4 separate regions of the Homo sapiens genome follow, and all the other regions are reported to be linked to region 2. The links are microRNA targets in miRTarBase. Many come from high-throughput screens and were not tested one by one. Region 2 holds a microRNA gene; each other region holds the end of a gene's coding sequence.

Region 1 (5,474 bases), not on the chromosome of region 2:
AGTTTTTGCATCTTTAACTTAGTTTCTTAGTAATGGGCCTTTTGGGAATTTTAGGCTTATGCTACTCAAAAAAGAGATTTGTTCACATCTACGCTGACGGTAGGGAGCTAGGGAAATACCAAGGGCCAGGCATGGATGGTGCCAGTACCTGTCAATGTGTGTAAAAGTTGAAACTTGGTGGCTAGGCATGGTGGCTCATGCCTGTAATCCCAGCACTTTGGGAGGCTGAGGTGGGCGGATCATCTAAGCCTCCATCTAAGCCAGGAGTTTGATACCATCCTGGCCAACATGGTGAAACCCCATCTCTACTAAAAATACAAAACTTAGTGGGGCATGGTGGCAGACACCTGTAATCCCAGCTACTAGGGAGGCTGAGGCAGGAGAATCACTTGAACCTGCGAGTCGGAGACCACAGTGAGCCAAGATAGCACCACTGCACTCCAGCCTGGGCGACAGAGTGAGACTGTCTCAAAAAAAAAAAAAAAAAAAAACTGGCGGGGCGCGGTGGCTCACGCCTGTAATCCCAGCACTTTGGGAGCCTGAGGCGGGCGGATCACGAGGTCAGGAGATCAAGACCATCCTGGCTAACAACGGTGAAGCCCCGTCTCTACTGAAAATACAAAAAAATTAGCCGGGCGTGGTCGCGGGCGCCTGTGGTCCCAGCTGCTCAGCAGGCTGAGGCAGGAGAATGGTGTGAACCCGGGAGGTGGAGCTTGCAGTGAGCCGAGATCGTGCCACTGCACTCCCAGCCTGGGCGACGGAGCGAGACTCCGTCTCAGAAAAAAAAAAAAAAAGGCTGAAACTAGGAGGGAGAGAGGTGCTCTAAGAAAGACAGGATGCAGTTGTTGAGCCCCCAACCCCTTCCTGTTTAACTGAAAAGCTGACCCTGAGCTAGGAGGCAGGGTCCAGGCACAAATGGAGGCTGTGACCAGGACTGAGCTGCCTATTCTCTGCCTTTCCTACCTGGCTACAGATCGTTCAGAAAGAGGCAGAGCGGGCCGAACGGGCCAAGGAGCGGGAGAAGCGGCGAAAGGAGCAAGAAGAAGAAGAGCAAAAGGAGCGGGAGAAGGAAGCCGAGCGGGAACGGAACCGACAGCTGGAGCGAGAGAAACGTCGGGAGCACAGTCGGGAGAGGGACAGGGAGAGAGAGAGAGAAAGGGAGCGGGACAGGGGGGACCGAGATCGGGATAGGGAAAGGGACCGAGAACGAGGCAGGGAAAGGGATCGCAGGGACACCAAGCGCCACAGCAGAAGCCGGAGTCGGAGCACACCTGTGCGGGACCGGGGTGGGCGCCGCTAGCTGGGAAAACACTAGAGCTGCAGGTACCAGCCACTCGGCCCCAGGGGGTTATGGCCACAGAGGGATAGGCACAGTCTCCACCACCCTGGAGCCAAGGGTCTTTCACATCACCTATCCCTACATACATACCAAATGGAAAAGTGGCCATCCTTTTCCCCCCAAACACACCCCCTTAACCTATCTCTTGGGACTTAGCCCGACCCTCCCTCTCATTTCCCATTAAGTCTGAGAGGCAAGAGCTAGGTTAGGCAAGGAGGTGGTTGGCCAGAGATGGGGAACAGCCAGGTGCCCCAGTCCTCTGATTTTTCCTCCATCCTGCTTACCACCTCCCTGGGTACTTACAGCCTTCTCTTGGGAACAGCCGGGGCCAGGACTGGGTCACCTATGAGCTGAATCAGCATCTCCTCCTGAGTCCCAGGGCCCCTGCAGTTCCCAGTCTCTTCTGTCCTGCAGCCCTTGCCTCTTTCCCACAGGTTCCACTTTATATCCACCTTTTCCTTTTGTTCAATTTTTATTTTTATTTTTTTTATTATTAAATGATGTGGTCTATGGAAAAAAAAATAAAAATCTGACTTAGTTTTAAACTGTGTGAGTGGCTTTCTTTGGGCAGGTTAAGAAGCCACTGTGGATATCTGAGCGTGGACATCTGAGGATATCTGGAGTAGGAGTTGCTCTCATTCCATGTGTTCCTTTAGGCTGACTGCTTCCTGCTTATTGAACTTCCCACGTCTTTTATCCCCTGCCTTGGCCCTGACCAACCCAAAGCTGTGGACCTTCCTCATTCGGGAAGGCATGGAGCAACCTGTGTCCGTGGCGGCACCCCAGCAGGGCTAGGAGGGTGGGTCCTCTTCTGGTTCCTGGTCCTGTGCACGGTTAAATTAGGGGTTTGGTCACCTGCCTGCCACCTTGGTGCCTCCCACAACTACCACCAGGGGGCGGCAGCTCCTCGCTCTGTTGGCCCCTGTAACCGAGCTTCCCAAGAAGGGTTCCACTGCCCGCCTCCGACCTCCCGCCGATGTCGTGCCTCTGTTCCCGACCCGCTCCCTGGGCCCGGGCCTCGGACTCTCTGGACCCTTCTGCCGTCCTTAAGTGTCCCCCAGCTGACCTGCTACCGTGCTTTGCATGGGCTCTCAAAACGCCGCCGCCTTGCAGCTGGGATTCCATCCACACCAGTCCCAAAAGCCAGCCGGGAACCGGGAGCCCGGAGCCGGGTCTCTCCGCAGTGGGCTCCGAATTCCCCACCTCACCGCGCGCTCGCCCGTTTTCCGCTGCGGGCGGGGACTGGCAGCTTCGCGCTCCCGGGTGCACCCGCCCCGCCAGCTCTTCGGAAATGGCCTGGCGCCGTGGCCTGGACGTCCTCCCGCCCGAGTGCCCTGCCGGGCGCTGCGGGCCCGGTCCGGGAGGGGCGCCGCATCTGTATGCGCCCCGCAGCCCAGGAGCGCCGAGGGGGCGGACGCGCGGCGCCGCCTCCGCCCCCGCCCCCGCCGCGCGGGCCCGGCTGGCCGGGGAGGGTCGGAGGCTGGGCTCTCCTCTCCCGCGCGGCGCGGAGCCGCCTCGCTCCTCCGCAGGCGGAGTCTTCTTCCCCCGCCCCCTCCGTCTCGCTCCCTTGTTCTCGCCGGGGCCGCTCAGACCTGCAGCGGAGCCGCGGCGCCCGCTCCAATCGGCTCGGGGCTGTGCCCCCGGGACCCGGCGACGGGGGCGGGCGGGGGCGCTTCCCGCCGGCCTGGGCCCCTCGGCAGTGCCAGGTAAGGGCGCCTGCCCCGGAGCAGGGGTCGGGAATCCGCGGAGGGGTAGGAGGGGGCCCGCAGCCTGCGGGGGTCTTCGGAGGGGTGCGCTCCGTGGCTGGGAGCCCGCTGCCGGCTCCCTTCTCCCGCGCTCTGCCTCTTTCCCTTCTCCCCTCGCACCTCTCTCCCTCTTTCTTCTCTCGATTTCTCTTCACCCTTCCTTCTCTGCCTGTTTGCCTTCCTTATCCCTTCCCTCTGTCTCCCCAACCCTTCCCTCTCCCTCTTGTCCTTTTTCCATCTCCTCTCCCTCTTTGCCTTTTTCTTTCTCTACCTTTCTCCCCTTTCCTGCCTTTCTCTTTTCTCTTTCTTGCTCTCCTTTCCCTCCCTCTCCTCTCCCCTTCCTGCTATCCTGTTTCCCACTCCTCTATCCCCTTCCTTCTCGCCTCCTCATCCCGCCTTCTCTCTGGTCCCCAGCCTTCCTCCGGTTTCCCCCTTCCCTCGGGAGCAAAGGGACTGTCAGGTGTGTGTCTGCTCTGAGGGAGGAGGGGCAGAAGCCACAGCTACCTGAGGGGTCCTCCCCCCCGCCCCTAGGAGAAAGGAGAGCAGTGGGAAGGGTCTCCTCTCTAGCTCCCTTCCCGTGGCCCCTCCCTGCCTCCACCCCTCCTGTCTGCTCCTTCTCCCAGAATTAAGTTCCCGAGGCCTGGCTTGACACCCCCGAAGCTGAGGTCTGCCCCTGCCTGCCCGGAACTGCCCCCGGTGACCCGTTTCCAAGCCTGGCCCCTAGGACTCCTCTCTGCCTTCAGACACCCAGGCTGCTGCCCTGGTCTCTCTCATTCTGTCTCTTGCCACTGTTCTGTTTCTGTCTCTCATCCAGTCATTTCTCTGCCGGACAGTCCCTGAGTCAGTCTAGCCGTCAGTCATTATCTGTCTCTAGCCTCTGGGTGGACCTCTCTCCCCGGTCACCTCCCCCTGTCCCCCACCCTGTATCCTCTTCCTTCAGCTCTGGCTCCCAACTCCTGTCTCACGAGCCCAGTCCCCCTTCAAGGACTGCACTGGCAGCGTGGGCTGGAGACAGGGCCTGGAGAGTGGGGCTCCCCCTTGTGGGGAGGGACTTTCACAGACTCTCAGCCCTGCCTGAGGCTGCACTCCTTGTCATCTCATGCTGACCCTAGACACCTTAAGGCCACACCTCCATGAATCCCAACTCCGTAATTTTAAGCCCTTTCTCTGGTAGCCCCGCCTCCTCCAATACCTGGCTACGTGCCCAACCTGGGAGGACAGAGACCAGATTTGGGATTCCAAGCCCTCCCAGCATCCCCTCTCCTGTGTTCCTCCCCAGTTCTCTACTCAGAGTTGACTGACCAGAGATTTATCAGCTTGGAGGGCTGGAGGTGAATACATGCAGAGCCTGGGTGGAGGAAGGATCAGCCTCTCTGCTCTCTGTCTTAGTCTGAGTTCTGGGCAGTGGAGTGTCTGGTTCCTTGGAGGTCTGGTCTTCAGCATCTAATTTTGCGGGGGAGGAGGGCTAGGGGTTTCCTTGAGCCTGAGCAGCTGCTTGTCCTGCAGGTGTGGATCCATGGGGTAGCCTCAACGCATCTGCCCCTCCACCCCAGCCAGCTCATGGGCCACGTGGCCTGGCCCAGCCTCAGCACCCAGGGCCAGTGAACAGAGCCCTGGCTGGAGTCCAAACATGTGGGGCCTGGTGAGGCTCCTGCTGGCCTGGCTGGGTGGCTGGGGCTGCATGGGGCGTCTGGCAGCCCCAGCCCGGGCCTGGGCAGGGTCCCGGGAACACCCAGGGCCTGCTCTGCTGCGGACTCGAAGGAGCTGGGTCTGGAACCAGTTCTTTGTCATTGAGGAATATGCTGGTCCAGAGCCTGTTCTCATTGGCAAGGTAAGGATGACCCCTCCCATGTCTACTCTGACACCAAGCCCTCAGGCCCTGCCCTGCAACTTCATCACTTCTGCAATGACCTTGGTCCCTCAGGACTCCCAACGCTCTACCCAAACCTAGACTCTTTAACCCTGTCTCTGTACTTGGAGCCCTCTGCCATCTTTTCGTGACCCCTGCAGCTGCACTCGGATGTTGACCGGGGAGAGGGCCGCACCAAGTACCTGTTGACCGGGGAGGGGGCAGGCACCGTATTTGTGATTGATGAGGCCACAGGCAATATTCATGTTACCAAGAGCCTTGACCGGGAGGAAAAGGCGCAATATGTGCTACTGGCCCAAGCCGTGGACCGAGCCTCCAACCGGCCCCTGGAGCCCCCATCAGAGTTCATCATCAAAGTGCAAGACATCAACGACAATCCACCCATTTTTCCCCTTGGGCCCTACCATGCCACCGTGCCCGAGATGTCCAATGTCGGTGAGCACCCCAGCTCTGAATGCCCCAGTTCCCGTCTTCTGGAGCTCTCTCACCTCTCCTTCCCTTCTTGTTGTCTGCCCCAGAA
Region 2 (5,474 bases):
CCTCATGGGGGCTCCCACAGCCCCTTGGCTTTTGGATGGGCCTGGGGCCCCTGAGCAGCTCTTTGTCTCCGCAGCTCATTTCCTCCAAGGTGCCCAAGGCTGAGTACATCCCCACTATCATCCGCCGGGATGACCCCTCCATCATCCCCATCCTCTACGTGAGTCCCGCCCCGGGCCTGCCCCCAACAGATGCCCTCTTGCGGCCCCACCCTGGGCCAGCGCCGGCACCCCAGGTCCCCAGGGTGCTGTGGCGCTGCTGGCTCTGACGCAGCCTTGATGTGGCCTTGTGGCCTGTGTCTGTCCCCAGGACCATGAGCACGCAACCTTCGAGGACATCCTTGGTATGTGCCTCATTGGCCTTCTCTCTGCTGGTTCCAGGCCTGGGAGGGGCAGACACAGGTGGGGGTGCCCCTGGGGCTGGGGTGGGGGCCGCAGCACTCACACCCGCTCTCCCACAGAGGAGATAGAGAGGAAGCTGAACGTCTACCACAAGGGAGCCAAGATCTGGAAAATGCTGATTTTCTGCCAGGTGGGGCTCAGTGCTCGTCTCCTGACCAGGAGAAGAATCGTGGTGGGGCAGGGGAAGACCAAGGGGAAGAAGTCAAGTTGGGGGAGACCAAGGGGAAGAGGTTGGGGTGGGGAGACCAAGGGGAAGAGGTGTTTGTGGGGGAGACCAAGGGGAAGAGGCGTGGGGGTGGAGACCAAGGGGAAGAGGTGTGGCTGGGGGAGACCAAGGGGAAGAGGCTGGGGTGGGAAGACCAAGGGGAAGAGGTGTTTGAGGGGGAGACCAAGGGGAAGAGGTGTGGCTGGGGGAGACCAAGGGGAAGAGGCTGGGGTTGGGGAAGACCAAGGAGAAGAGGCGTAGATGTTGAGGGGGAAAGATCAAGGAGAAGAGGCGTGTGGCGGGGGGAAACGAAGGGGAAGAGGCGTGTGGCTGGGGGAGACCAAGGGGAAGAGGTGTGGCTGGGGGAGACCAAGGGGAAGAGGCTGGGGTTGGGGAAGACCAAGGAGAAGAGGTGTAGACATTGAGGGGGAAAGATCAAGGAGAAGAGGCGTGTGGCGGGGGGGAAATGAAGGGGAAGGGGCGTGTGGCTGGGGGAGACCAAGGGGAAGAGGTGTTTGGGGGGTAGATCAAGGAGAAGAGACGTGGCGGGGGAAGACCAAGGGGAAGAGGCGTGTGGCGGGGGAGATCAAGGGGAAGAGACGTGGCGGGGGAGATCAAGGGGAAGAGACGTGGCGGGGGAGATCAAGGGGAAGAGACGAGGGGCAGGGGAAGATCAAGGGGAAGAGGCGTGTGGAGGGGGAGATCAAGGGGAAGAGGCATGGTGGGGAGATCAAGGGGAAGAGGCGTGTGGCCAAGGAAGACCAAGGGGAAGAGACGTGGCGGGGGAGACCAAGGGGAAGAGGCGTGTGGTGGGGAAGACCAAGGGGAAGAGGCGTGGAGGGCAGAACAAGGGGAAGAGGCGTGTGGCGCGGGAGATCAAGGGGAAGAGACGTGGCGGGGGAGATCAAGGGGAAGAGACGTGGCGGGGGAGATCAAGGGGAAGAGACGAGGGGCAGGGGAAGATCAAGGGGAAGAGGCGTGTGGAGGGGGAGATCAAGGGGAAGAGGCATGGTGGGGAGATCAAGGGGAAGAGGCGTGTGGCCAAGGAAGACCAAGGGGAAGAGACGTGGCGGGGGAGACCAAGGGGAAGAGGCGTGTGGTGGGGAAGACCAAGGGGAAGAGGCGTGGAGGGCAGAACAAGGGGAAGAGGCGTGTGGCGCGGGAGATCAAGGGGAAGAGACGTGTGGCAGGGGAAGATCAAGGGGAAGAGGCGTGTGGAGGGGGAGATCAAGGGGAAGAGACGTGGAGGGGAGATCAAGGGGAAGAGACGTGGTGGGGGAGATCAAGGGGAAGAGACGTGGCAGGGGAGATCAAGGGGAAGAGACGAGGGGCAGGGGAAGATCAAGGGGAAGAGGCGTGTGGAGGGGGAGATCAAGGGGAAGAGGCGTGGGGGGGAGATCAAGGGGAAGAGGTGTGGGGGGGAGATCAAAAGGAAGAGGCGTGGCGGGCAGGTCAAGGGGAAGAGGCATTGGGGGGAGATCAAGGAGAAGAGCGTGTGGTGGGGGAGATCAAGGGGAAGAGGCATTGGGGGGAATTAAGAGGAAGAGGCGAGGGGGGGAGATCAAGAGGAAGAGGCGGGGGAAGATCAAGGGGAAGAGGCGTGTGGTGGGGGAAATCAAAGGGAAGAGGCGTGTGGTGGGGGAGATCAAAGGGAAGAGGCGTGTGGTGGGGGAGATCAAAGGGAAGAGGCGTGTGGTGGGGGAGATCAAGGGGAAGAGGCGTGTGGTGGGGGAGATCAAAGGGAAGAGGTGTGTGGTGGGGGAGATCAAAGGGAAGAGGCGTGTGGTGGGGGAGATCAAAGGGAAGAGGCATGTGGTGGGGGAGATCAAGGGGAAGAGGCGTGGGGGGGAGATCAAAGGGAAGAGGCGTGTGGTGGGGGAGATCAAGGGAAAGACGTGTGGTGGGGGAGATCAAGGGGAAGAAGCGTGGCCGGGGGATGAAGACCAAAACTACCTCCCACGCATGTGCGTGGGTGCATGTGTGTCGGAGAGGGGGAGGAAGGAGGAGCAGATGCCTGACCACAGCTTCTTACAGGGAGGTCCTGGACACCTCTATCTCCTCAAGAACAAGGTGGCCACCTTTGCCAAAGTGGAGAAGGAAGAGGACATGATTCAGTGAGAAGCCGGGTGCCCTGGGCGCGGGGAGGGCTGGAGGCAGAGTCCAGGCCCTGGCATGTCCCTCCCCCACAGCCCCTCCTCCACGGTCCGCTCTGTGGAGTGGGGTGCCTGTCCCCTGCCACTGGGTGACCCACCCCTCTCCACCAGCTTCTGGAAGCGGCTGAGCCGCCTGATGAGCAAAGTGAACCCAGAGCCGAACGTCATCCACATCATGGGCTGCTACATTCTGGGGAACCCCAATGGAGAGAAGGTACAGTGACCCCCAAGCCCCACCCCAGACCTCTGGAAACCCCCGACGTGGACAGACAGGGCAGAGCCTTCCATGTTTCCTGGCATTTTTTTTCCTTCCCCCGGGCATTCCCCTAGAAATCCTTTATGCCTGAGCCCAGCCAGGTTTGGGGGGTCTGAAAAAAGAGGGTGGGCCCTGCTCCCCATCTCCTCCCCGCTCCTCCTTCCCCATCTCTCTGCCTCGGACTCATGGCACCCCGCTTCCTCCAGCTGTTCCAGAACCTCAGGACCCTCATGACTCCTTATAGGGTCACCTTCGAGTCACCCCTGGAGCTCTCAGCCCAAGGTGAGTTACCCAGGCTGGGCCGAAGCTCTGCAGCCACTGCGGGGCCACGGTGGGGTGGGATCCCCAGGGCCGGCCAGGCCTGAGCCTCCTGCCCCCGCTCCGCCCAGGGAAGCAGATGATCGAGACGTACTTTGACTTCCGGTTGTATCGCCTGTGGAAGAGCCGCCAGCACTCGAAGCTGCTGGACTTTGACGACGTCCTGTGAGGGGCAGAGGCCTCCGCCCAGTCACCATCAGGCCACTCCCTCTGCACCGGGACCTGGGGCTGGGCCGCCTCGTGCTCCCCGGGACTGTGTGGCTCCGGTCTCGCCTGGAGCCACTTCAGGGCACCTCAGACGTTGCTCAGGTTCCCCCTGTGGGTTCCGGTCCTCGCTGCACCCGTGGCCGCAGAGGCTGCAGTCCCTGGGGGCCGGGAGGATCCCGCCCTGTGGCCCGTGGATGCTCAGCGGCCAGGCACTGACCTGCCATGCCTCGCCTGGAGGCTCAGCTGTGGGCATCCCTCCATGGGGTTCATAGAAATAAGTGCAATTTCTACACCCCCGAAACAATTCAAAGGGAAGCAGCATTTCTTGTTAACTAGTTAAGCACTATGCTGCTAGTTACAGTGTAGGCACCCCGGCCCAGCAGCCCAGCAGCCCACATGTGTTCAGGACCCTCCCTGCCCACCCCCTCCCTGCCGTATCGATCACCAGCACCAGGGTGGCCCGTGTGCGTGGGGCCAGCGTCGCCGGGCTGCCCAGCCTGGCTCTGTCTACACTGGCCGAGTCTCTGGGTCTGTCTACACTGGCCGAGTCTCCGACTGTCTGTGCTTTCACTTACACTCCTCTTGCCACCCCCCATCCCTGCTTACTTAGACCTCAGCCGGCGCCGGACCCGGTAGGGGCAGTCTGGGCAGCAGGAAGGAAGGGCGCAGCGTCCCCTCCTTCAGAGGAGGCTCTGGGTGGGGCCTGCTCCCCATCCCCCCAAGCCCACCCAGCACTCTCATTGCTGCTGTTGAGTTCAGCTTTTACCAGCCTCAGTGTGGAGGCTCCATCCCAGCACACAGGCCTGGGGCTTGGCAGGGGCCCAGCTGGGGCTGGGCCCTGGGTTTTGAGAAACTCGCTGGCACCACAGTGGGCCCCTGGACCCGGCCGCGCAGCTGGTGGACTGTAGGGGCTCCTGACTGGGCACAGGAGCTCCCAGCTTTTGTCCACGGCCAGCAGGATGGGCTGTCGTGTATATAGCTGGGGCGAGGGGGCAGGCCCCCCTTGTGCAGAGCCAGGGGTCTGAGGGCACCTGGCTGTGTTCCCAGCTGAGGGAGGGCTGGGGCGGGGGCCGGGCTTGGAACGATGTACGATACCCTCATAGTGACCATTAAACCTGATCCTCCACCGCGGCCGCCGCGTGGGTCTGTCCTCTCAGTGCTTTCCAGGGGCCTTCCTGTGCCCAGCTTCTGGGCCCACTCCTGTGAGGTCACTGCTGCAGGGCCTTCCTGCCTGGACAGAGTTGGAGCTAGGCCACTAGACCACCCCACAGGGCATAGCCAGGGGGACCAGCACAGGAGGGGACGGAGAGGAGCTGCAGGAGGGCTGGGGGGAGGCTGCAGTCTCGGAGGGGGGCCTCGCCGGGTCTGGAGGGGACAGCAGAGACAGCCCGTTCCCCCTGCCGCCTGAGGGCACCAGGGAGAGGGCTGTATGTCCCTCACGCCACACTGTGTGTGCAGTCAGCAGTGTGGCCACAGATGGGGGCCACTCTCTCAACCTCAGGTGTCCTCAGGGCCCAGACCGCTGCTGGGCACAGCCAGGCTGGCTGCCAGCTGGTTCCCTGCCCCGTGGCTGGGGGACAGAGCAGCACGTATCAGCTGGGCTAGGGTCAGGGGGCCACTGGTGCGCAGCCTGGCACAGCCTGGCAGGCTTGAGGCCCAGTGTGCTGGGGGTGGTCACACAGCCGTCAGCCACCTCCAGCTCTTCCAGGGCATTCTAGATGGGGTCCCGGGAGGGGGCAGGTTTTGGTGCCAATTTGAGTGTATAAAGTTTTAGGTAAATACCAAATGCCTGTAGACTCTGTGTTATTCAGTTACTATTTGAAAGTGACATATCGTGAAATCATGGGGGATCCGAGTCTCCTTTCTGCAAAGTTGATGAGACAAGTCGCCACCGCCTGGAATCTGCTGACGCTGCCGTGCAGGCCTCAAGGGTGGC
Region 3 (5,474 bases), not on the chromosome of region 2:
CATTACTTTGTAAATGAAATTAGAGTAGAATAGAAATACCAGAGTGCATGGCATGTAGTAAGTATCCTGTAAGTTTTAATTTCAGATGTGTGTTTGTAGGTACCGGATTGTAACATAAAGTGTGTTTTTGTTTTGGTGTGGTTTTTTTATCTATAGTTTGCTGTCAAAAAACTTCAAAGACTCTTAGTGTGATCTACACCAGTGGTGTGCAGTATTCTCCAGTGATAAGTAGCATCAGTGTCACCTGGGAGCTTGTCAGAAATGTACCTTATTGGGCCCCACCCAGATCTACTGAATCACAAACACTAGTGGTGGGTCCCAGCACTGTGTGGTCCTTAATGAGTCCCTGTCTTAGTAGTCAATTTTCTGTTGCTGTAAGAGAATATCACAGGCTGGGTATTTTATTATAATAGAGGTTTATTTAGCTCACAGTTCTGGAGGCTGGGAAGTCCAAGAGCATGGCACTGGCATCTGGAGAGGGCCTTTTTGCTGCGTCATGTCATGGTGGAGGTTGTCACATGGTGAGAGGACAAGTGTGTGCCAGCTCAGGACTTTCTTCTTCTTATAAAGTCACCAGTCCCATCTTGGGGGCCCTACTCTGATGACCTTATCTAATCCGAACTACCTCCCAAAGGCCCTACCTCCAAATGCCATCAACATATTAATTTGAGGATTAAGTTTCCAATACATGAAATTTGGAGGACACATTCAAACCATAGCAGTCCCCCTGGTGATTCTGATGCACACTCAAATTTGAGGCACACTAGTCCAGCCTTGCCATTCTTGGTGAGGTTCAAGGACTAACACTGGCATCACCTGTGAGCTAGTTGGAAATGCAGAATCTCAGACCCCAACCTGGACAGGCTCACTCAGAATCTGTGAGATCACCAGTTAATTTATTTGCATGGTAATGTTAAATAGCTCTGATCTCAACACAAATGCCTCAGGGGCCAAGTAGGTCATGTCAGTAGTGAAAGTAGCCTGGTTTCCCCCGTAAAGAAAGTAGAACAATAAGAAGGCATTGTGGTGTGAAGTTTTAGTATTCTTGATTTGTTTTTAAAAATCCTGTATTATACCAGTGGGGGTTAACACATTCAACCAAATTCATCAACTAAGGTTAACTGCAGTTGACATCAATTACTTTAAGCAGATTTTTAAACACAGAATTTTAATAGTGACCCTCATATTAACTTCTTCTGATCTCTTTTAGGAATTTATCAAAGAGCTGCTTTCTCGGATAAGAGGCATGAGGAAACTGAGCCCTCCGCAGAAGAAGAGTGTATGATTCTGGAACAGGGTGAAACTCTCCCAGAGACGAAGAAAGAGTCCTGGGATTTGTACTTCATGAAGACTTTTGTGAAAGAATAGGTGTCCTTATGAACAACGTTTTTGTTTTTTTTTTTTTCTTTTTTGGTGTGAAGGTGGGGGGGTCTATTAGACATTTATTCAAGAGCGTTCTTTTTTTGGTTTTAAAGGTTTTTGTTAATGTAATATTTTAATAGCAAAGATATCATGACTCTAGCCACAGCCTAACCAAGGATTATCAAAGGAGGTGGACACTCAAGGAAGGGCCACGCCAGGCTGCGTTTCCTGCAAGGACTCAGATGTTCAGTACCTTATGATACAGGGAAGATAGTTTTCTTACAAGTAGTTTGGTAATATTTTTTTTCTTAAGTTGTACATTTGACTCAGCTGTCAAATTTCTCACACTTGTATATATCTACACACAACTAAGTTAAAATGTTGATGTGAGTTTTATTTCACATGGATGGAATAAACTTGTGGTTGTCCTTTAACTGGAGGTCCCAGCACATGTGTTTTCAAGAGGCCACTAGGCATTCTTCACTGAGTGCTGCTGACTTCAACGTTCACTTTATGCACCAAAGTGAAAGAATTCAGTGTATCCGTTATTTTAATGCACTACACCACAGAAATGTTAAGTTGGTCAAGGGCTTAATTTATGGAATTTCTATTATTTCATTGGTTGGGATGCTTTGCCAGGTCATGTGCTTATTGTCTCATTTTGTAGTCTTTTAAAGTTGTATGAACCCTTAATTTGAAGAACTAACTTGATTTCTAGAGAAATATCCACACTATCTCAGTGGTATTTTGCATTGGAAAAAGGAAGCACTGTGTAGCAGTGAATTGTCTGCTTTCCACCGAGTACTGTGTTTATTCTCTCTCCAGGAAAGCAGATCAAAAGAAAGTTAGCAGATCGAGTGTCTTCTTCCTTAGAAATAGGTTCTGGTAGCTTCTGTGCCTGGGTAGTATCAGACCAGTGGGAGTAAACCGAGTGTTAAGTGTCAAGGTGAGAAAGCCTCACATTCTCTCAAGACAGTTGCTCTAGGAGCTGAGTTGCTGGTTTGGAAGTGTGGAGATTGCATTTCTGGCTTCTCTCAATGGCTTGTGTTGAGGACTCTGGGTGCTCCTGGCCCTAATTGTGCACCCTGATCCCCGTGCTTGGAGCTAGGCCTGGTGGCGTGCTCTAGCCCTCTCAGTTACCAGCTCTTTGGAGAAGGATCAAAATTCAGATGGAATGTGGGATGGGTAATAGGTGAGAGTAGAAACCCTTCCCTCCAGGAGGCCCCCGCTGACTCCCACAGAAACCCACCTACCATAAGATGTCTTCAGGTGGCCTTGTCCAAGGATGGGGGTCAGGCATTTTATATCAAGGGTGCTCTGAACATATTTTATTTTTTAAAAAAACTATGTTTGTGAATTTTGCGTATACTGGCAAGCTTTTGAAAATGTATTTAATTTTGTATTGTTTACCAATGATTTATTTACAAGATATTTACTCAAATAAATGGAGCTGCTTACAAGCCTGTTGACATGTGTGGCTTGCACAACACGTTAACATGATGGTTTTGCTGTGTCAGTTTCTCTGCAGAGGTGAGGACCAAGCACCTCACCTCGTTTCATTTCATTTTCAAGGATTTCTAGGCATGTAATCCTGGCCCTCTCCTCAGGCATCTTCAGATCAGGTGGTGAAAGCAAAGGAGCTGGGCCACATTCTTGGGCTGAGAAAGAAGACGAGCTCTGTGTGCTCAGCCTGGCACTGTCCTAGGCCATGCTCCTTTCATTTAATTAAAACTCCTCTTTGCCATCTTACAAGAACCCTCAAAAACATTTCAAATTAGTAAACTATTCCACTTGTTAGAATGCCTTGCACCATGGAAGTCGGAAAAATACAGAATGGGCAGGATTTCTGTTAGGCTTAATTGACCAGCCCATGTGATGGTCTCAGATGAAGTAAGAATTGACTTTTCCTCCAAAGGCCTCTGCTCCCACCACACACTTCCTCCCCACCTTCCCTCCTGCCCTGATCCCCGTGAGTGCTTCAGCAAGAAGTTTGGGCCTCTTCCTTGACTCCCCAGTATGCTCCCAGTCACCCAGCTTGTCCTCTGTGAATACTTCTCAAACCTATCCCATGTCCAACTTTCCTGGATTGCTGCCACCACCTTGGGAACAGATTCTCCATGTCCAGGCTTGTCTCCCTCTGATCCATCCTCCACCCAGTTGCTAGAATAGTCTGACGACTCCACCCCCTGCTTGAAACCCGAACCCTCTGCATGCCTTATGAGAAATGTTGTCTCTGCCTCTCCCACCTCATCTTTTGGCCTTGTGCTCATGCCCAGTTCTGCCAAATTCCTTGGAGTTTCTGGCGTGTTCTATGTATTTTCTTCTCTGGTGCTTTGTAAAATCTGTTGCCTTGGCCCAGAACGCCCCCTCTGCCAACAGGCTGTATCCAGAGAGCTGGGTTAGACCCCCTCCTAGGTGTGTTCCCCCTCAGCTCCAGCCTATACTCTGTCATAGACGCATCCACAGTATCATTATTGCCTATCCATTTGTTGGTGTCTTCTGTTAGAATCTGGGATCCTCGAGGCTGGGAATCTGGACTTCACCAAGCATCTGGTCCTAGGCTTGGCCCATCAAAGAGATTGTGTGTTTGCCAGTTGAATGAAAATGACAAAAGATTCAAGAAAACTCCACTGTTTTCTTCCCAGCTAGAGTTGTGGTTCTTAGATCTGAGTGTACATTTGAATCACTGGGAAGCTTTAAAAACAATGGAAGCCTAGGCCTCAGTCAATTCTGACCAGTTAAATCAGCGTCTCCAGGACAAGAGCTGGGGTGTTTGTTTTCAAGCTCTCCAGCTTGCGCATCGCTGGGCCATTGGGTCACTCTTGTGCCATTGGATGGCCAGATGCATTAGCCTGACCTCAGCTCTCCATGTTTATGCTATTACAGCAGGTGGCAGCTGTGGTATTAGCACACTCACTATTTCTCATACAGAGTCTTCTCACTAGGGCAATGGCTCCAAATTATCCAACTTCTAGTGCCGCGCTCACTTGAACATTGGGAAATCTCAATGTAAACTTCATGGAGTGGCTTCCATTTATAACGATCATAATAAAAGCACTGTGCTAAGTGCATGCTTTATCTCATTTAATCCTGACCTTAACCTTATGAGGCAGGTGGCATTCTCATTTTACAGATAAGAAAATAAACTCAGGCTTAGCAGCTTACCTAAGTCCACACAGCTACAACACTGAGATTCAAACCCAAACCTATTTGGCTCCAAAGTCCCATAACCATTAGACTTTCTTGCCACTCTTAGGGAATTACTCTTAGTCCCACTCACAAGAGTGAACCCCAGAAGCCACATTTAAAGTGAGCCAGGTCCCTGAGCTGGCAGGGTAGGGGAGGAGGCCTTGTGGATGGAGGAGATCCCAGCCACCTGTGGGGCTCTTCCTCACTCCTGGGAACTGAGGGACTCCCTGCTCCCCATCTGCAGTGCAGCCAGGCCCTGTGATGCTGGCCCTCCTTATCCAGAGTCCTCTTGCCTTTTCCCCATAACATAAAGCTCCTGGACTTGGGCTTAGCAGCTGAGCAAGGAGTATCCAGCCATCAGTTTCCTGAGAAAGAGCAGCTCAGGACAAGGTGATTTTCAATTCCTGAAACACAGGAATTAAACAGGTTTTTACTTATTTATCACTGACATAGTTTGGATATTTGTCCTCTCCAAATCCCATTTTGAAATTTGATCTCCAGTGTTGGAGGTGAGAGGTGTTTGGGTCATGGGGGCAGACCCCTCATGAATGGCTTGGTGCCATTCTCCTGGGATTGAGTGAGTACTTACTCTTAGTTCCCTCTAGATCTGGTTGTTAAAAAGAGCCTGGCACCTCCTCCCCTCTCTGTCTTACGTCCTCTCTTGCCATGTAACAAGCCGGCTCTCCTTCTGCCGTGATTGGAAACTTCTGAGGTCCTCACCAAAAGAAGATGCTGGTGCCATGCTTCCTATACAGTCTGCAGAAGCACGAGCCAAATAAACCTCTTTTCTGTATAAATTGCCTGCCCTCAAGTACTTCTTTATAGTAACACAAACAGCCTAAGACAATCACCTAAAGTCTCCATAAAAGATTGTGTGCTGTGCAAAATCAGCTTTTGGAAACCTAAGCTGTTTTTGACATGAC
Region 4 (5,474 bases), not on the chromosome of region 2:
CACCCCTCCATACAACAAGGTTTGCACGTACCACACCCCAGCAGCCAGTCAGGGCCTCCATTACATCACAGTGGGGCTCCTCCTCCTCCTCCTTCCCAGCCTCCCCGGCAGCCGCCACAGGCCGCTCCCAGCAGCCATCCACACAGCGACCTGACCTTTAACCCCTCCTCAGCCTTAGAGGGTCAGGCCGGAGCGCAGGGAGCGTCCGACATGCCGGAGCCTTCGCTGGATGTAAGTTGGGGTCGCCACTCGCCTTGGCCTGGGGCTAGGCCTGGCGCCGGGACCTGCCCGAGAGAAGGGGTGGGTGTGAGGGCTCGAGGCCCCGAAGGGAGGAGGTGGGTGGGCGGTGGGAGGGCTTCACCCAGACCTGGCTCCAGACCAGGAAGCCCCATGATGGGGAAGTGTCACCACTGAGGGTCCCCACCCTGCTGGCTCCTGTCCCCCCAGTCCCTTTGGCCATAGCCCTGAACCCCAGCCCTGACCCACCTTCTGACCCAAGCCCTGCGGGGTCCCTTGCGCAGCACAGGAGGGTCCCTGCCCTCCCCCGATGGTGAGCTTGCGGTTTCTGTGTCTGCCTCTCTGGCCCGGGCAGGGAGGGCTGGAGGGAGAGGCCGTCTGTCTGCCTCGCTGGTGTGTGTCTGTCTCCAGTTTTCTTGTCCGCGTGTTGTCCATGCCCTGCTTCTGCTTGCTCCATCGCTCACTCCAAGAGGCCCCCATGTGGGTGACAGAAGGTGGGGGCAGAGGGGGCAGCCTTGGGTCACAGCCAGGGGCAGCAGGCCATCATGGGCAGCAGAGGTGCCAGGGCTCCTACCCTGAGGTCTGGAAGATGGTGGGGGTCACCCTGGATGATGGGGCTGGGCTGCTGGATGGGGCTGGCGGGATGGGACTGAGCACCGGCCCCGCCCATGCCTACACAGAGCTGGTGCCAGACTCCGGGAGGAGGCTTGTCCTCGGCCCCTCCTGTTCTTCACCCCCAGCCCTGCTCTGTCAGCCTCTGCCCTGCAGCATCAGAGGAGCTCTGTGCTAGCTAGGACTCACTCACTGTGCAGCCATCTCAGGTCCTTGCCCAGTGTTCCCCCTCAAACCAGGCCAGTGGGGCTGCTTTTAGATGCATGAGGCTCCCCATGTGACAGACTCCAAGGATATCTCAGTAGAGGGTAGAGACAGTCTGCATCCCCTCCGGGGCCACAGGGAAGGATGGCTGCCAGCCAGCCACAGGCTCACCAAGGAGTGGCGAGCCCTTGAGAAGAGGGATGTTGGGGGGTTGGGGGCGGTGCAGGAACCACTCGCCTTCCCGCCTTCCCACCAGCCCACCTCCTTGTGCTTACACGTGAAGCATGTGATTTCAGCTGGGAGGCCCAAGTGACCTGCCATGGGGCCTTCCCAGGTTAGGGCTGAAGTCCATGCCTGAAAAGGGTCAGCCCTGCTCAGGCCTCAGCTGGTGGGCTGCGGGTCCCAATCCTGAGGCTTGAAATGAGCATGGGGGTGCCCCACACTCGGTGCAGTGGCCGGGGTATGTGTGGGGATACCTGGCAGGCCCAAGCCCAAGGCTGTTCTCTACCCCTTTTTTTGGCTAGGGTCCTGAGAGGCAGGTGGAGGGGGACGGGCCAGGGCGCCCCTGCATTCCTCACCCGGGGCCTGCCTCTCAGGCACACCTCATCTGAACTTCATTACTCCTTCTTTTCCAGCTCCTTCCCGAACTCACAAATCCTGACGAGCTCCTGTCTTATCTGGACCCCCCCGACCTGCCGAGCAATAGTAACGATGACCTCCTGTCTCTATTTGAGAACAACTGAGGGCCACCCGGTCGGGGCCATCCCTCCACACTCTGCATCCTACCCCACCTACCCAACACACTTTTCCACCTGGGAGCCTGTGCCCTCAGACCGCCCCGCACCAGAGCCACGGGCTGTGGGGCGGGGAGCCCTCCCCCGCTGCAGCCCTCTCAGAACAGAGGGGTAGGGAGGGTGCACCAGTGCACCAGGAAGGCTGTGTGGGTCTGGAGCCCACGTCCCACCTCCACACCCTTGGCTTGGGCCCATGCCCAGCGCAGGCCTGAAGACCACCCTCCCGAGAGGAACCAGCCCGGTAAGAGGGCACACGCTGATGCGGCTTCCCGGTCCCTCCGCGTGTGCCGATTCCAGATGACCTTCCAGTGTCCCCAAGGTTCTTCCATCTTCTAGACTGTAACCCTGCCTCCCTGCTTCCTGGTCCAGAGCCTCCCTCCAGTGACTGTGGAGCCTGAGAAGGCCCCCGGGCCCCAGCATGGGCCCCGAGCCTTGGAGGAGCACTGGCAGTTGGTGGCAGTGAGACCAGCCCACCCACCACCACCCACCACAGAAAAGCACAAACCTCTGGGAAAGACAACGTCTCTCGGGGGCCAGGGGTCATCGGTTTGACCCCTGACCTATAAGCCAAGATACCCCATAAACACACTCAGAAAGCAGAGAAAAAGGACAAGAGTCTGTGTTTGAGAGGGGGTCTGCCATTCCTGCTTGGGGACTGGTGGGGAAGAGGGCCAGGACATCTTCTGAGCCAGGACGTCCCTGAGGCTCCACCTCCAAGCTCAGACAGGGCCCAGGCTTGGGGAACAGAGAGAGCAGGTGTACACCCAACCAAAGTGATTGTGCCCTTGGTTGGGGGGCGCGGGCATATAACCTGTCAGAAGCAAACAGGAGCGGCAACTTCTAACTTTGCTCCAAGCCACTCTCTTTTTAAACAGCAACAATTTAAAGCTATGAAGTCACCTGGAGAAAAGGAACGTTGCTCTTGGACAGCAAGCAAACCATTTCTCTCCGTCTGTTCTGTTTTTCTCCTAGTCCCTCTCCTGCCACCTCTCCAAGACTTCCGTGGGACACCCACTTCCCTCTGTCCTAGTTCTCTTTGTCCAATCAGATGGCAAGGGCAGTGCGTGGAAAGGCCGGGGAGGTGCAGAAACCAGAGCCCAGGGCAATGGTGTCTGTCCAGCCCCTCCCTCTGTCCCTGTGCTCCAAGCTGCCCCCGGCTGCAGCCCAGGCCATGGACATGTGCACCAGTATGTACCTGCAGGCATGGGGGGGAGGGGGGCGTGTTTCTGGGCCTGCCCCAGACACTGCCCTTGGCTGCCAGCCTACCCTGCCTGCACTCCTCCACCATCACAATCTCACCCAAACTCCTGCTCACTCAAGCAAAAGCAGCCTCTGGCCTTCCCTCCACCGCTTTGCTCCATCTGGCTTACCACTCTCCAGGGCCTCCTGGGGAGCCTGTCCTGTGTTCACTTTGTTTCAGGCTGGTCTGTGCCCCGTGAGCCACATGGCCTAGGGTGATGCCAGGTTGTCCCGTCACTGGGGTCCCATCTGTAAATTCTTTGCGCCCTTCCCGGCTGCTGCCTGGGGCCCTTTCCTGCTCTCCCGTCCGCTGTGGGTGGTCCCCAGCTCTCCTCTGTGGGTTTTACCGGAAAGGTGGCCCCAGCTGTTGACTTCCAGTCACTGTCCCAGACGGCACAAGGTTTTCTGTAGGAAAGCTGCCATTGCCCCGGCCCCTTTTCTTCCTTTGTCCCGTTGTCGAGGTTTTTTCAAATAGCGTGTTGTTCAGTATGCAAATCAATTATTTTAAGAATCGCTTTTGTAAATATCTTTGTGAATATTTTAGTATCGTCTTTGATAATATTCAACATTTTCATGACCTGGTTATAGCCTTTGCTGGTGTTTTTAAAATACCTGGACTCAATGACAAAGACCGAGTCTTCTTTTTTTTTAAACAAAAACAAAAAAAGCAACCAGGGCTATTTGTACAGTTGAAGGGGTGAACAGAATGGGCGGCTGTGCTGGGAGTTGGAAGACCGGGCAGCCCGCTATTTAGAGCCATCCCTCAGTCAGCTGGCAGGGACAAGCCAACGCCAGGTAGCATGTGGCCACCCTTGCCCAGTGTCTGTGGCCTGGCAAGTGGCCACGCCCTGTGTCAGACCATCTGGGAATTAAGCTCCAGACAGACTTACAGATGCCTTCCTTAGGAGTTCTTGCTTCTTGCGTTGATACTTTGCCCCAGAAAGGCCTGGGATTCATTCTGGTTCTTATCAGGGTGTGTCCACACTCTGCTCACAGGTGGATCCACGGCTTTCCAGTGCGGAGAGTCGAGATGCTCCCTGCAGCCCAGGCCCCGGGCACCTCCTGCAACCATCTCTGGGCTCAGCACCTGAGGCGGGTTTCCTGGGTCCCCTCTCCAGCAAGCCTCCACCAGCAAGCTCGGCCCAGAGCTTCCCTTCCGGCTGGCTCTGAACCGTGCGTGGTGCCTACAGCCTGCAGTCTGGAGACAAGCTCTTCCGGAGTGCTCTGGGAGCCAGGCCAGGGTGTGAGGGAGGTGCAGAGGCATCCGGGGCGGGAGCAAGCCCCAGGTTGTGACAGGTGCAGGTAGACAACGCCCATAAACAGAGATGGTCCTGAACTCTGGAGAGATCCTTCCCTGATCCTTTCGGACGACTACTTGGAGCCATAAGTAACCTCAGCAAAAACGAGGCCTCTGCAAGCCACTTTTCCATGCCAAGCATCCACCCGGCCCACAGGCATGTTTCTGCCGCCACTCCGCAAGATGGACAGGGAGCCAGCAGGCAGGCGGGAAGGGCCAAGTACAGGCAATCACCCCCATCTTCTTGGTTTGAAGCTTTATCCATGTATCATGTTCCGTGTAGCCATTTTATTTTTTAAGAAACTGCTAATACTTTCTCCCTAATGGAAGCCCTGATCCCCCAGAGAGCTACAGGTCTGCTCCCGACGGGCCTCGGGCCTGACCCGTCCACACAGGGCCGTGTCAACAGCAGCGACTCAAGGGACGTGTGTACATATGTAAATGAGAAATAGAGACGTGTCAACAGATGCATTCATTTCTCTTGGAATGTGTATTGTTTTTATTTTGCGAAACAAAACAAAACAAAAAAAAAAGCTTGGAACTCCATCACGTGGAAAAACTAGATCCTGTTGGTTATAGCATTTGTGAGTTCTCCACGTCTGTCTCTCTCGCTCATGTAATATACTCTGACCCTGAGTGGAAAGGGGTTTTTGTTCTGTTTTTATTTTACCTACATGTACTATTTAGCTTCAGTGTACTAGTCCTGCCACCTGTGTATTTTTAGGGTGCTATGGAAATAATGAAAAGAAACGGGGATTTCAGAAGAAAATTGTAACCAAATTCATACTTTGTATAATTTTTGATATCATGATCACAGGTGATTCACACGTACACACATAAACACACCCACCAGTGCAGCCTGAAGTAACTCCCACAGAAACCATCATCGTCTTTGTACATCGTATGTACAATGCAATCATTTCATACTTTAAACTGGTCAAAAAACTAATTGTGATTTCTAGTCTTGCAAAGCTGTATGTAGTTAGATGATGTGACAACCTCTAATATTTATCTAATAAATATGTATTCAGATGAAACCTGTATATTAGGTGTTCATGTGGTTATTTTGTATTTAAAGATCAAATTATTTG

Evidence for each region. Region 2 holds the annotated microRNA hsa-miR-7114-5p (UCUGUGGAGUGGGGUGCCUGU, at 2,813-2,833, shown strand). A microRNA usually pairs through its seed, bases 2 to 8, with sites in the 3' UTR of a target mRNA and lowers its output. Matches are read on the target gene's strand: a 7mer-m8 pairs with bases 2 to 8, a 7mer-A1 pairs with bases 2 to 7 and ends in A, and an 8mer does both.
Region 1: the mRNA of ACIN1 is a reported target of hsa-miR-7114-5p. Seed matches in the 3' UTR shown: 7mer-A1 at 1,355-1,361.
Region 3: the mRNA of PPP1R14C is a reported target of hsa-miR-7114-5p. Seed matches in the 3' UTR shown: 7mer-A1 at 1,926-1,932 and 7mer-A1 at 2,598-2,604.
Region 4: the mRNA of ZMIZ1 is a reported target of hsa-miR-7114-5p. Seed matches in the 3' UTR shown: 7mer-A1 at 2,335-2,341 and 7mer-A1 at 5,255-5,261.

What each region holds. Positions count from the first base shown.
Region 1 is chr14:23,054,974-23,060,447 of GRCh38, reverse strand. It overlaps ACIN1 (apoptotic chromatin condensation inducer 1), which reads left to right. Exons shown (of 19, transcript NM_001386863.1): 19 at 974-1,884. The coding sequence ends at 1,300. CDH24 (cadherin 24) reads left to right here and starts at 2,928. Exons shown (of 13, transcript NM_144985.4): 1 at 2,928-3,045; 2 at 4,591-4,915; 3 at 5,095-5,389. The coding sequence starts at 4,715. LOC105370705 (collagen alpha-2(I) chain-like) reads right to left here and starts at 2,788. Exons shown (of 2, transcript NR_169511.1): 1 at 2,406-2,788; 2 at 1,799-2,163. RefSeq lists silencers at 2,699-2,848, 2,929-3,048.
Region 2 is chr9:137,447,420-137,452,893 of GRCh38, reverse strand. It overlaps MIR7114 (microRNA 7114), which reads left to right and starts at 2,808; the gene lies at 2,808-2,868. It overlaps NSMF (NMDA receptor synaptonuclear signaling and neuronal migration factor), which reads left to right. Exons shown (of 16, transcript NM_001130969.3): 10 at 75-158; 11 at 308-341; 12 at 459-529; 13 at 2,639-2,718; 14 at 2,869-2,971; 15 at 3,220-3,295; 16 at 3,403-5,324. The coding sequence ends at 3,500. RefSeq lists enhancers at 1-689, 2,426-3,625.
Region 3 is chr6:150,247,536-150,253,009 of GRCh38, forward strand. PPP1R14C (protein phosphatase 1 regulatory inhibitor subunit 14C) reads left to right here. Exons shown (of 4, transcript NM_030949.3): 4 at 1,211-2,857. The coding sequence ends at 1,285. Among named protein-coding and RNA genes, the nearest start is that of PPP1R14C, 110 kb to the left of the region's middle.
Region 4 is chr10:79,310,954-79,316,427 of GRCh38, forward strand. It overlaps ZMIZ1 (zinc finger MIZ-type containing 1), which reads left to right. Exons shown (of 25, transcript NM_020338.4): 24 at 1-231; 25 at 1,689-5,474. The coding sequence ends at 1,796. Among named protein-coding and RNA genes, the nearest start is that of PPIF, 34 kb to the right of the region's middle. RefSeq lists enhancers at 827-1,327, 2,085-2,584.